2 linked regions of the Homo sapiens genome follow. The protein of the gene in region 2 interacts with the protein of the main gene of each other region in a pairwise test. Each region holds a gene or a part of one and is shown on either strand. Other genes may lie near its edges.

Region 1 (7,042 bases), on a different chromosome or scaffold from region 2:
AATATGAATTTTGATATTTAGATCCTTATCTAAAAGTAATTGCATAATTTATCGAGAATATTTTATTGAATCCTTGATTTAAAGCTTAATATTTTAAAAAGGTATTTTATAAATAGGTGCTAAAGTACACATTCTGCAGGAGTTGTATCATAAAAATGACACTCATGCTGGGCGTGGTATCATGAGCCTGTAGTCCCAGCTATGCAGGAGGCTGAGGTGGGAGGATTGCTTGAGCCCAGAAATTCAAGGCTGCAGTGAGCTATGATTTCGCCTTTGTCTAGCCACTGCACTCCAGCCTGGGCAACAGAGGGAGACCCTGTCTCTATAAAAAGAAAAAAAAAAAGAACGACACTTGTTATAATATTATTATAATTAATAATTTAACTATACATTATCACATATTAAATTATAGCCTGGGCGTGGTGGCTCACGCCTGTAATCCCAGCACTTTGGGAGGCCGAGGTGGATGGATCACCTGAGGTCAGGAGTTTGAGACCAGCCTGGCCAACATATAGTGAAATCCCATCTCTACTAAAAAATACAAAATGGTGGTGTATGGACCTGTAGTCCCAGCTACTTGGGAAACTGAGGCAGGAGAATCACTTGAACCCGCAAGGTGGAGATTGCAGTGAACCGAGATCGTGCCACTGCACTCCAGCCTGGGGGACAGAGCGAGATTCTGTTTCTTGAAACAAGAAAGAGAGAGAGAGGAGAGAGAGAGAGAGAGAGAGAGAGAGAGAGAGAAAGGAAGGAAGGAAAGAAAAGAAAAGAGGGAGGGAGGGAAGGGAAGGGAAGGGAGAAGGAAGGAAGGATAATTTGAGGAAGAAAAACTTGAAATAAATAATAATTGCTGATAATTACATGTACTTTTGGCTAAGCCTAAAATGATATCATTTTGGGACATAATTAAAAGGTTTAGCATGTTACAATAAACTGTTCATGTATAGGAAATAGAAGAGCAGGAGAAAATGTTAAAAGAGAAGAAGGCAATGACAGCGGAAGCCTCTGAGTTGGACATTAACAATGCAGTGGAATTAGAATGGAGAAAAATAAGTGACTCTAGTTTGCTGGAAACAATGCTGTCTCAAGCGGACTCACTCCATACTTCAAATTCAAATAGTTCTGGTAAATATTTAAAAATCCTTTTACATTTGGGAAAGTGATCCTACGGTAAGATATTTATTTGGCACACTATAAGATTATATCTCCTGTTTTCAAATGATTCCATGTCCAACCCTCTTTGCCAGCTGCTTAGTAACCAGTGAAAAATGACATGATAGGAGATCAAAGACTTGTGAGCAGATGTTTGTGAACAAAGATTACCTTTGCCAGGAAAAGATCAGGAAATTTGGCTTAGAGCCCAGTCTGATCATTCATGCAGCAGGTGATATACTTCAAGTGAAAACAGTTTGCTCTCTCCTGAGTGATCTTGAATTACCTCTAATTCCCTAGTCCCTTTAAATAGCTTATCTTCATATCTCAATTATCCTGAGATGCTGTTTGTGTTGAAAAGATCCACCTGGTATGTAAGCTTTAAAGTCCATAAATATTTTAAGTCGGCAGGTAGGTCATTTTTGGAGGCAGTTGTTATTCTTAATGAGTGTCACAAGTGTTTATTGGGATGTTCTTCGTATTCTAATTATATGACATCAAGTATAATACTATATGTATGTTTCTCTAGGTTTCACAAATTCTGCCATGCAATATAGCTTTGTTTCTGCAAACGAAGCACCATTCTACCTCTGGGGATCATCAACTAGTGGCTTGACCAAACTCTCAGTAACAAGGCCTTTTGGAAGAGCCAAAACTAGATGGTCTCAAGTGGGTAAACTTAATGATACATGTCCATCTATCTATTTATCTTTTCTTAAGAGCTATATTATCTTAGACTGTATAAATGAACACCAATAAACATTGTGTCTGTCTTCTTTCTCCTAGGTTTTTAGTCTGGAAATACAAGCAAAATTTAACAAAATAACTGCAGTGGCAAAAGGATTTCTTACTCGTAGACTTATGCAGACAGATAAGCTGAAGCAACTTCGACAAACTGTAAAAGTAAGATTCCTGTAAATCGTTTGTATTTCACTTCTGTCTTAGTTTCTATCAGTCTTGTGACAGCTGAGCTAACAGATTAGTTCAGAACTTAAACGCTTTTTAGTCACTGTAATCTAGGCAGTTTTAGAAGTCTGATTGTTTGTTGCGGGAAGTCAGGGACCCCGAATGGAGGGACCAGCTGGAGCCGCAGCAAAGGAATATAAATTGTGAAGATTTCATTTTAATATGGACATATATCAGTTCCCAAATAACACTTTTATAATTTCTTACTCCTGTCTTTACTTCAATTGCTGAACATAAATTGTGAAGATTTCATTTTAATATGGACATTTATCAGTTCCCAAAATTAATACTTTTATAATTTCTTATGCCTGTCTTTAATCTCTTAATCCTGTTATCTTCATAAGCTGAGGATGTAGGTCACCTCAGGACCACTATTGTGTTAACTCTACAAATTGATTGCAAAACATGTGTGTTTGAACAATAGGAAATCAGTGCAACTTGAAAAAGAACAGAATAACAGCGTTTTTCAGGGAACAAGGGAAGACAACCATAACTGACTGCCTGCGAGGTCGGGCAAAATAGAGCCATATTTTTCGTCTTGCAGAGAGCCTATAAACGGACGTGCAAGTAGGGAAGATATTGCTAAATTCTTTTCCTAGCAAGGAATATTAATAATTAATACCCTGGGGAAGGAATGCATCCCTGGGGGGAGGTATATAAACGGCCACTCTGGGAGTATCTGTCTTATGCGGTTGAGATAAGGACTAAAATATGCCCTGGTCTCCTGCAGTACCCTCAGGCTTACTAGGATTGGGAAATTCCACCCTGGTAAATTTGTGGTCGGACCAGTTCTCTGCTCTCAAACCCTGTTTCCTTTTAAGATGTTTATCAAGACAATACGTGCACAGCTGAACATAGACCCTTATCAGTAGTTCTGATTTTGCCCTTGTCCTGTTTCCTCAGAAGCATGTGATCTTTGTTCTCCTTTTTGCCCTTTGAAGCATGTGATCTTTGTGACCTACTCCCTGTTCTTGCACCCCCTCCCCTTTTGAAATCCTTAATGAAACTTGCTGGCTTTAAGGCTCAGGTGGGCATCATGGTCCTACCAATATGTGATGTCCCCCTCGGACGCCCAGCAGTAAAATTCCTCTCTTTGTACTCTTTCTCTTTATTTCTCATCTGGCTGACACTTATGAAAAATAGAAAGAACCTATGTTGAAATATTGGGGGCTGGTCCCCCCAATAATCGTTAATCTTTCTCAGATAATATTATGAATAACATGTAAATGAAGCAGTTTGTGTGTTTTTGACTTGCTTGAAAGTGAGTGGTTTGACTTCTGATAAGTAATAGTTTTATTTATGTTCTTAGTACAGTCGGTCCTCTATCTCTGGGTTCCACATCTGTGGATTCAACGAACCATGGATCAAAAATAATTCAGAAAAAACAAATGATGGTTGTGTCTGTACTGAACATGTACAAATTTTTTTTCCTTGTCATTATTTCCTAAACAATATAACAACTATTTACATAGCATGTACATTTATTAGGTATTTTAACTAATCTAGAGATGATTTAAAGTATATGGGAGATGTGCTTAGGTTATATGCAGATAACTATTTTATATAAGGGACTCCAGCATCCTTGGATTTTGGTATCTGAGGGATTCATGGAACCAGTCCCCCACAGATACTGACGAAAGACTGTAATTTTGGATTGACTGAGAAAAAGAAAAAAGCAAACTCCAGTGATCACAAATCTTTCTAGAAAAATGTTTTTGAAGGAGCATTTCTTTTTTCAGGATACTATGGAATTCATAAGAAGTTTTCAGTCAGAAGCACCATTAAAGAGAGGCATTGTTTCAGCTCAAGATGCTTCACTTCAGGAAAGAGTGTTAGCTCAGGTAAATACATGGATCCTGAAGGCTTTTAAGACATGGACATATTATATTTCTCCTTTTTTATTTAATCACTGAAAATAGGTTTCAATGAAAACTATTTTAATCTTTTTCTATAAATAAGTGTACATGGTATATAGTATTCCTGAACTCTAACCTCATCTTTTAAATGTATACAATATTTTCTTCTCTTGTGCCTAGTTGCGAGCTGCCTTGTACGGTATTCATGACATATTCTTTGTAATGGATGCAGCTGAAAGAATGTCTATTCTACATCATGATCGAGAAGTTCGCAAAGAGAAAATGCTCAGGCAAATGGTATGTTATATGATTTCTAATGAATAGAGTTCTTCTGGGTTTAGGGTAATTGATACTAAATGTCAGTTTTGGTTGACTTCAGCACCCTTCTTCTGATAATTCTTAAGCACAAGTAATTCCTGGAATTACTAGCAGCATTTAAATCTGTAGACAGATTTAAAAGAATTACATCATTTAAGAATTACATATTGTTTTCTTATTGGATTTTAGAGTTGAAGCTTTGAATGTTTTGCTCAGATGGCTTATACAATCTATCAGCTGCTCCTGATTGAATTTCCTTGAATTCAATTATAATGTGGGTTTTGCTTTTTTTGAAATCTGAGTTAGAAAACAGGCTCCAAGTTAATTTGAAGTATATCAGAGTATGTGATTTGAATCAGTTATCTTAGTGTGATTGGCAAAGGAAAAGCAAGCAAAATTTACATAATTCTAATTATTTAATTCTTAGAATTAGACTGCTTCAAAAATACAAAACAAGATGATTTAACTAAATTAAAAATGTTAGTAGAGAGAAGCTTTTCCAGGCAATGTGGGATTATAATACATTATAATATAGTGGTATTAATTGGTTCCAGTAGAGTTTGACGTTACTTTTGTATATTAAAGGATAAAATGAAAAGTCCACGAGTGGCTCTTTCAGCTGCAACACAGAAGTCTCTTGATAGGAAGAAATACATGAAGTAAGTTTTTTGTATCATGTCATGTTAGTTATCAAACCAATTAATTTTAGTCATCTGTTGGTCTATTTGCATATTTAAATTTAGAAATAAAGAGTTAATTTTTCTGCAGTTGAGCTGATAGAAATCCCCTTTATATAAAGAAATTTATTAAAATCAGGTGCTAAAATCTCATTTCATCTTAGATGAATTTATTTACTAAATTTGACAACATTCAACTCATATAACTGATAGCTGGTTAATCTTAAAAACAGTTAATCTTTATATTCAGTGCCTAAATATATTCCTTTTCTGATGTCCTAAAGGTTTCTTGGGAATAAAGACTTAATGGGAAAAATATCTTAATAACTTTTTTAAAAAATTCTTCTTTCTTGAATGCAGTCTTTAATATGCTTAGTACAGGTCTTCCAGTAGTACACCAGCTTCTAAATGATGATTTGTTTCTGTCATCCTGTATTACATTTGTAAGCATGTTTTCTTCCCTTCTCTAAATACATTATGTCCTTATTTTTATATTGTGTTAGAGCTGCTGAAATGGGAATGCCAAATAAGAAATTTCTGGTTAAACAAAATCCTTCTGAAACAAGGTGAGAAAAATCACTTAGTCTTAATGAGAGGCTTTTTGTTTTTTATAGAAAAAAAAAATTGGCTGGGCACGGTGGCTCACGCCTGTAATCCCAGAACTTTGGGAGGCCAAGACGGATGGATCACCTGAGGTCGGGAGTTTGAGACCAGCCTGACCAACATGGAAAACCCCATCTCTACTAAAAATACAAAATTAGCTGGGTGTGGTGGCACATGCCTGTAATCCCAGCTACTCAAGAGGCTGAGGCAGGAGAATCGCTTGAACCCGGGAGGCAGAGGTTGCAGTGAGCCAAGATTGCTCCATTGCACTCCAGCCTGGGCAACAAGAGTGAAACTCTATCTCAAAAAAAAAAAAAAAAAAAGTTAAAAAATTAAAATTTAAATCCCAAACTTCATTTTTGTTGACTTTGTTCTACTTGACATCAGTAGAGCACTTCTTGCTGAATTGGGTCGGGGGTCGTCCTCAGGCTCAAGATTCATACCAATACCTGGCCATATACCTAGTCACATGTCAGACCAGATGTGCCCGGACCTTTTGTAGGACATGCTATCTGTGGTAGAAATTTTGAGCGTGGTATGTCTTGAGTTCAGTTAGACAGTCCAGAGGATCTTTGATACTTATTTAAAAACCTTAGAAAGCTAATTTAAGCTGGGCTGGGAGCAGTGGCTCATGCTTGTTATCCTAGCAGTCTGGGAGGGTGAGGTGGGTGGATCACGAGGTCAGGAGTTCAAGACCAGCCTGGCCAAGATGGTGAAATCCTGTCTCTATTAAAAATACAAAAATAAAAGATACAAAAAGCCGGGTATGATGGCGCGTGCCTGCTCAGCTACTCAGGAGGCTGAGGCAGGAGAATTGTTTGAACCTGGGAGGCGGAGGTTGCAGTGAGCCGAGACTGCACCACTGTACTCCATCCTGGGCGACAGAGCAAGGGTCCGTCTCAAAAAAAAGCTAACTTAAGCTGGGCACAGTGGCATGCTCCTATGGTCCCAGGTACTCGGGAGGCTGAGGCAGGAGGATAGCTTAAGCCCAGAAATTCAAACCAGTATGGGTAACATAGTAAGACCCATCTCAAAAAAATAAATAAATAAAAAATAAAGCTAAAAAGCGAACTTTAATATTTCTGACCTGTTTTTTACTCCTGTAAAATGAGAGTGATACTTTCTTCTCTCACTGGTTTGAAGGGAAAAGTTAGCTTTTGTAAAGCATATGTATAAGAAAATTATCTAAAAGCACAAGGGTTAGTCTATATGTTGGACATTTCTTTGCTGATAAAAACCTAAGGTTTGGACTCTTAGTGAGCAAAATACAAGTATCATATTAATATGCTTTAGTCGATTTGCTCTGATTTGTGGTAATATATAGGCCATATTATTGCATAGTTGACCTTTACCTTACAGTCATCATCTTTCATCCGTTGAAAGAAAATGGGAAAAAATGGAATTTAACCTATTAAATTAATTTTTCATTTAATTTGTCAACAGAGTCCTTCAGCCAAACCAAGGACAGAA
Region 2 (7,980 bases):
GTCTGGGTGACAGGGTGAGACCCTGTCTCAACAAAACAAAACAAAACAAAACAGAAACAAATGTTACCCAGGCATGGTGGTGGGCACCTGTAGGCAGAGGTTGCAGTAAGCTGAGATTGCGCCACTGCACTCCAGCCTGGGCTATGGAGCAAGACTCCATCTCAAAAAGCAAACAAACAAAACCAAAATTCTGTCTGTCCTTCTTTTTAGGTTGCTGGAAATTAACAAGATAAATATAAATGCAAATAAAAATATGAGACACCAGTTGAATTTGAATTTTGGATAAACAACACTTTTTTATATATAGCTATGTCCTAAATATTGCATGTAAGTATTGCATAAGATGTATATTGCAACATGAATACTTGGGACATACTTATACTAAAACATTATTCATTGTTATCTGAAATTCAAGTTTAACTGGGTGTCCTATATTGTTTCCAACAACTGTAACATAACCTCTTGGCATCTACTTGTAGGGATTTTGTGAAATTTAGAACCAATATATGTAAACTAGTTATCACAAAGCCTACCACATAGCAGGAGATAAATAATAATAATAATAACTGAGGAAAGTTAATCTCATTTGGGCCATCTGGATAACCTGTGAATATTGGCAATCTCTCTTTCCATGCCATAGGTTATAGATAAGGAAGCAGGACCGGAAGAGTCTACACATGAATATTAATCAAGAAAGGAGATATTTATAATTTTATGCACCTAAACCTTTGCATGAAGATTTTTTATTGTTAAACCAGGCATGGTGGCCGTCTATAATCCCAGCACTTTGGGAGGCCAAGGCAGGAGGATTGCGACATGGTGAGACCTCTGTCTACAAAAAAAACCAAAATTAGCCAGGTGTGGTGGTGTGCACCTGTAGTCTCAGCTACTCAGAAGGCTGAAGTGGGAGGATTGTTTAAGCCCAGGAGGTCGAGGCTGCAGTGAGCCAGGACTGTACCACTGCACTCGAGTCTGGGCAACAAACCAAGACCCTGTGTCAAAAAAAAAAAAAGGTTTTTTTATTGTTAAAATATTCGCATATTTTCCAAATCTTTACAGTGTCAAAATTCTTTACATTAGTAACTTCTTCATTTTAAAACTTGAATGAAAACTTCAAAGTTACATTTACTTCTTTCAAATATGATTTCAATCCTAATTAGAAAACCACCTTCATTTTCTCAAGGTAAATTGCACCATCCACAAATGTTCCAGTTTCTTGTCTACCTAGTCTCTTAACTTCGTGTTATCTAAACTTGTTTATAATACTCTCCTGAAACCGCTGTTGAAGGTTACCAGGCTCTATTACGACAATCTCCTTCCTGCCTTCTTCCTTTCAATTCTATTATTACTTTCAATTCATCCTTGTTATATGAGTTTAACCTTTCTACAACACAAGTATCATTATATCAATCCCTCACTCAAAAACACCAAATGAAAACGAGTAGGATGAACGGTGGGAGGTAGGGTGAAGCCACATTATGGTGGCCCTTGCAAGTTGAACTTAAAGTGAGAAGTTTTTGAGAGGGGAATAACATGCTAAAAGGCATTGTTTTACTTAGATCATGCCAGTAACTGTGGGCAGATGAATTAGAGATGGCAAAGATCGGGGTAATCAGCTGTCGTAGGGATTAAGTATACTGTGCTGATAGGAAAGTCTTTCTCATAGGGCCTGGGCCTGCCAGAGAAACATTACCTTACTGAGAGGTTCATAGTTTTAAGTAGTAGAATCCTAATTTGGTTTGAGCTTATAGAGTTTAACATATATACAAAATGAGGCAGTTTAAAGTGTAGCAATTTGATTTTAGGCGTAAAAGCTATTATTTGAAGCACAAAAGAATTTCTGTGCAGTAATTTTAAAGCGTTGCTGAGTCACTTGGGCATGTGAGACCTTGCCCAGGAACATCTGGCTACTTACTTTAAAAGCCGTGACTATACTTAGCTGCATAAAAAAAGTCCTTTGGTCCTTTCCTCTGGATTCCAGGGCAGATGAACCAGGCAAACAATGTTTCAGCTATTGCTGTAAACTTGCAGGAACCTCTGCTTCTTAAGTACCTTTTAAGCTTCCAGGACTCCCTATCAAGTAATTACCATGCTAAATTGTAAAGAACCATAAACCCTTTCTCCCAGATCCCTATGGCCTATTCCAGGGAATAAGGGTTAGCAGAGGCAGTATTCAGGCTTGCTTTGTTCTTCTTCTTTTGTTTTCTTTTCTCTTTCTTTCTTTTCTTTCTTTCCTTACTTTTTTTTTTTTTTGACAGAGTTCTGCTCGTGTTGCCCAGGCTGGAGTGCAGTGGCACAATCTCCGCTCACTGTAACCTCCGCCTCCTAGATTCAAGCGATTCTCCTGCCTCAGCCTCCCAAGTAGCTGGGATTACAGGCATGTGCAACTATGCCCAGCTAATTTTGTATTTTTAGTAGAGATGGGGTTTCGCCATGTTGGCCAGGCTGGTTTCAAACCCCTGACCTCAGGTGATCCTCCCGCCTCGGCCTCCCAAAGTGCTGGGATTACAGGCGTGAGCCACCGCGCCCGGCCTTACTTTGTTCTTACACATATAGTAAGATTGTGTTCTCTAGGTAAGGAGTTTCTTGGTTAAAAGGAAAAAAATCCTAGTCTTAATTGCCCCTTCAGAACTAGGAAATTTGTCTTTAGACCAAAGCAGCAGGAAACAAGAATCGAAAGGAGTTAAAACAAGTGTAGAGAGATAGGAGAACCCAGGAAAGGGGGAATGCTCAGAGAATCCAGTGCCTGGAAATCTAGAAGCATGAATTACTAGATTTTCCCAAGCAAAAATGATCAGACTTTGCAGATTGCTGTTTCAGAAAGAGGGGAGTTCAGAATAAAGGTTGCAAGAGGAAGTGGGAGAGCTGGTAGTAGAAAGCAGAAGTTTTTTGTATACTCTGTTTAGTTTCTCACTTCCTGTGAGCACAACTTCGTTACCACCTGCAGCCTGTGCTGTCTTTTCACCTTTTACTTTAGAACTAACTGTTCAGTCTACCCATCAAAAGATGGGTACATTTACTTCCTCCATCAAGTCTTCACTGAAGATTTCAGATTCTATTTCTTTCTCAATTCCCTGAAATATTAGTGAGCTCAGTCACAATCACACCGTTTAGCATATAATAGTTGCATCAAAAGAAGGCTCGGCGCCGTTGCTCACGCTTGTAATCCCAGCACTTTGCCGGGCTGAGGCAGAAGGATCACTTGAGCTCAGGAGTTCAAGGCCAGCCTGGGCAAAAAAAAATTGTCTCTAAAAAAAAAAAAAGAAAAAAGTGTGAGCCTGCTTTCTTCCAACTAGGCAATGTATTTCTTGAATTTGGAGACTATATAAAAATATATTTATATACATAATCTATATTTATATATAAATATATAACATATATAATATATAATATATAAATATATAACATATATAATATATAATATATAAATCTATAACATATATAATATATAATATATAACATATATAATATATAATATATAATATATATAACATATATAATATATAATATATAACATATATAACACATATAATATATAAATATATAACATATATAATATATAACATATAACATATATAATATATAAATATATAACATATATAATATATAATATATAAATATATAACATATATAATATATAATATATAAATATATAACATATATAATATATAATATATAAATATATAACATATATAATATATAATATATAAATATATAACATATATAATATATAAATGTATAACATATATAATATATAAATATATAACATATAACATATATATCTAAATATATAACATATATAATATATAATATCTAAATATATAACATATATAATATATAATATCTAAATATATGACATATATAATATATAATATCTAAATATATAACATATATAATATATAATATATAAATATATGACATATATAATATATCTAAATATATAACATATATAATATATAATATCTAAATATATAACATATATAATATATAATATCTAAATATATAACATATAATATATAATATCTAAATATATAACATATATAATATATAATTTATATATAATTATAATATATGCAATATCTATATAAAATATATATATTTTTGAGACATAGTTTCGCTCTTGTTGCCCAGGCTGGAGTGCAGTGGCATGATATCGGCTCACTGCAACCTCTGCCTCCCGGGTTCAAGCGATTCTCCTGCCTCAGCCTCCCGAGTACCTGGGATTACAGGCATGCGCCGCCACGCCAGGCTAATTTTTTTGTATTTTTACTACAGACGGGGTTTCTCCATGTTGGCCAGGCGGGTCTCGAATTCCCGACCTCAGGTGATCAGCCTGCGTTGACCTCCCAAAGTGCTGGGATTACAGACGTGAACCACTGCGCCCGGCCTGGAGATTATATTTTAAAGTTATTTTGAATACTCCCTGGAAAAGTTCTTGGTTCATACTTATACCCGTAAGTCAAAAGATTTGTCAAATATTCAAGAACAATCAAACAATCACTTAAAAATACTGTATAAAAGTTTCTATTTCGGCATACTTTACTTTTACTTAACTAAAATTTCAAATAAAATGTATCCACTTTTATGATCTCAACAAGATCGGTCATTCCTATAGCGGAGTTGAAAACTTTCAACTTATTCACAATTATCAAAAGAATGGAGCAGCCCCCACAGAGACTTCCAGCAATGAGTTGTAAAATGCAGTCTGCATTAAGTAGCTTCCTTACAATCATCCCGATGGTAAAAGTGTCAAATTTCGCAAACGCCTGGACAAGGAAGTGAAATGATCATCTAATAACGCAGTTGACTCATCTGTCAAATAAGCGAGTGGGCCAGGGTCCCTGAGCTCACTACCCTCAGATTCTAACTCCAGCTTCACATCATTAGGCGTAAGCAGCCAATTGGGCCGTCTGGGAGCCGTGCATCCTGGGAGTTATAGTTTCCGGCTCCCTCCTTCAGATTACAAGCTCCACAGAGCCGCGGGAGGACGGTTGCCTGGTATTATTAGCAAGCAGCAAATATGGCGGTGGCGCGCGTGGACGCGGCTTTGCCTCCCGGAGAAGGTAAGGCGATCCCTACCCCGAGTCCTAAGGTTTACTTCACGGAGCTGAATTAAATAGTGGAGAGCAGAAAACCTAGGTTTAGATGTGCAGTTCTGGACCAGTTCTTTTGATGCGGATCTGTGGTCGTCGCGGAGGCGGGCTACCCTCTGGGAGTTGTAGTTCACCTGCCGTTCCCAGCTCTCCGGCGTCGCGGTGAGGGCCGAGCGGGGGACTACAGCCCCCAGAAGCCTTCGCGCGGCCCGGCGCCCTGGCTCCCGCGCTCCCGATGCTGAGGAGGCGGTGGATTTCGGGCTGCGATGACCTTTCTTGACCATTTACTTTGAGTCATGGGTGCCTAAGCGAAATGTTTGGGATCTCCCTCTTTCGCTTCACACATCTCCCTCTCTTCTTGGTTCCTGGAACCATCAGGAAAACCTTCCCTCAGAGACCGCTGCCTAGTCTGGCTTTGAACCCTTCCTCGGAGGTGGCCAGTGGCCGTGATAAAATCTAAGGGATGATCCAGAGCCCGCAGTTCTGTACTCCTTGTTCTTGCACACGGGTCCTAGGATCGAGTTTGGTCGCTGCCCAGTAGAGCACAGGACTGTGTGGGTGCTTCTGTGGCCTGAAGATACCTACCTCTTTGGGGCGCCGGACGCGAGCTGCTTTTGTTTTGGTTACAGCTCCGAGGCTTGGCAGCAGTCAGTCCTCTAAATCGGGGACAGGGCCCAGGGGTCGAGGCCCGTCTTCATGGCTTAGACCAGGAGTGCATTTTCTGGGAGCTGTAAATTCTTGGGGGAAGAGTTGGTGGATGGTTCTCAGACCTCTCTGTCGACCCCTTGGAATTGTGTACAAAGGCTGTGCACTTTTCTGAGACAGCACACCCCTTTCATCAATTTTTCAGAGGGGCTCACGACTCCTCACATGCTAAGAGCCATTAGACAACGGGAAAACGTTGAAATCCTCCAGGAGAGCAATCTGGCATAATTATTTCCTGCAGTAGTCCTAATCTGGGTGTAAATTTGAAATTGGCCGTTTCTCTGGCCCCGCCCTCTTTGGAGATCGGCTTTTCTTAAACCACACCTCTCAAGCCCACCAGGGCTACTTAACTGTTAATAGCAGTTAACATTTACAGAGCACTTTGTATGACCCAGGCGATGTTCTCAGTCCTTTTTTTTTTTGTTTTTTTTTTTACATTATCTCATTTTCTCTGTAGAACTACATTTATAAGGCAGGTATTATCCCCACTTTACAGAGTAGAAAAGGGAGCCCAAAAGAAATCAATAATTTGCCTAATATACCACAATGGTTAATTGGTGGAGCCAGGGTTTGAACGTCTATGTTATACTAAAGTGCCTTATTGAGTGCCCGGTGGCAGGAACGGGGCTAAGTACTATTCATATGGTTTCTCTTTTAATTCTCATATCAAGCTAGGGAAATGGGTGTATTATCCTATTTTATGGGAGAATTAGTTGAACTATACTTTGATTTTCAAAATCACAGTTTGGGCACTTTAGGATATATTGGTAGTTAGGCTGTAAGCTGGTGGATTGCAGTCAAAAGTTTAGTAACATTTAAACAATAGTATCATTACTTAGGCACAACAAATGGAAGTAATCGTCCATATTTAAATGTGAAAATTTTCAAAGTATATCTTAGCAACTTGAGGAGAATATCACACGTCTAGTTTTAATTTGATATTTCTGAAGAAAAATGAGTAATTCAATCTGGTCATTTAGAACTCAAGATTGCTTTAATTTTACAATGTTGATATTTATTATGCTCTACTGTTCTTTAACTTGAAATGGTATAGAGATTTTATAATTCCAGCCCTATGCTTAGCTGTTGTACATGTTTTATTTTATTTGTGTTTTCTAACATTTCCGTTTCTTTTCAAGGATCAGTGGTCAATTGGTCAGGACAGGGACTACAGAAATTAGGTCCAAATTTACCCTGTGAAGCTGATATTCACACTTTGATTCTGGATAAAAATCAGATTATTAAATTGGAAAATCTGGAGAAATGCAAACGATTAATACAGGTAGGTATTGCAATCTGGGAAATGGTTACATAGGATCAATTTATTATTAAACAAAACAATAAAATAACCTGACAAAAAGTAACTGTGCAGCCCTAGCAAGCAGTCATTGTTGCCTTAAATTTTTACATGACAGTTTCTTCTGAAGATGAACATACATGTACTACATTGAGAGTAGATTAGAAAAAAAAAGCATTGTTAAGAAAAGGAAGCATTTTATTTTGCAAAATACTGTGTTACTAAGGTAACCTTTTACCTCATGATGGGGGTAAAGAGTTCATTCATTCCTTCATTCAAGAAATGGTTACTGCGTCCCTCTTATATGTCTGGCACTGTATTAAGTTTTGACTGAGAGTTTAACAGCACTATTCTTGTGGAACTTACATTCTCAAGTTGTTGCTGTGTTAAAAATGTCTTAGTAGTTAGAGGAGGTCTGATCGCTCAGCTTTATCTGTATTTTCTATTGCCCAGGAACAATAACAAAAAACTGATAGTCATACTGTAGAATATTTAGACAATATATGTGAAATGTACAAAAGGAGTTTGTTTGAGAGTGTTTGGCTGTCTAAATAAACCTTTTAAATCACTTTAATGTGAAATATTTTATATATGTTATTCCTAAAAATAACAATATGTTTCCTTTTTACAGTTATCAGTAGCTAATAATCGGCTGGTTCGGATGATGGGTGTGGCCAAGCTGACGTTGCTTCGTGTATTAAATTTGCCTCATAATAGCATTGGCTGTGTGGAAGGGCTAAAGGAACTAGTACATCTGGAATGGCTGAATTTGGCAGGAAATAATCTTAAGGTGAATGGTTTCTTTTTTGTTTACAAAACTATTCTGCGTAAAAAAAATTCAAGCAATGTAGAAATAAGTCAAATTAAAAAGTGAAAGTACCCACT

What was found. The genes of interacting proteins can lie anywhere in the genome.
Region 1: the proteins of CEP97 (region 2) and CCP110 interact in binary tests that used the Homo sapiens proteins (3 or more experiments, as listed by UniProt).

The regions. Positions count from the first base shown.
Region 1 is NC_000016.10:19,540,940-19,547,981, forward strand, and holds part of CCP110 (centriolar coiled-coil protein of 110 kDa), read left to right. Parts: intron 1-947; coding exon 948-1,125; intron 1,126-1,681; coding exon 1,682-1,821; intron 1,822-1,938; coding exon 1,939-2,055; intron 2,056-3,857; coding exon 3,858-3,959; intron 3,960-4,154; coding exon 4,155-4,271; intron 4,272-4,877; coding exon 4,878-4,951; intron 4,952-5,472; coding exon 5,473-5,535; intron 5,536-7,015; coding exon 7,016-7,042.
Region 2 is NC_000003.12:101,719,657-101,727,636, forward strand, and holds the start of CEP97 (centrosomal protein of 97 kDa), read left to right. Parts: upstream 1-4,957; 5' UTR 4,958-5,020; coding exon 5,021-5,063; intron 5,064-6,937; coding exon 6,938-7,080; intron 7,081-7,726; coding exon 7,727-7,885; intron 7,886-7,980. UniProt on the Homo sapiens protein: Acts as a key negative regulator of ciliogenesis in collaboration with CCP110 by capping the mother centriole thereby preventing cilia formation. Required for recruitment of CCP110 to the centrosome.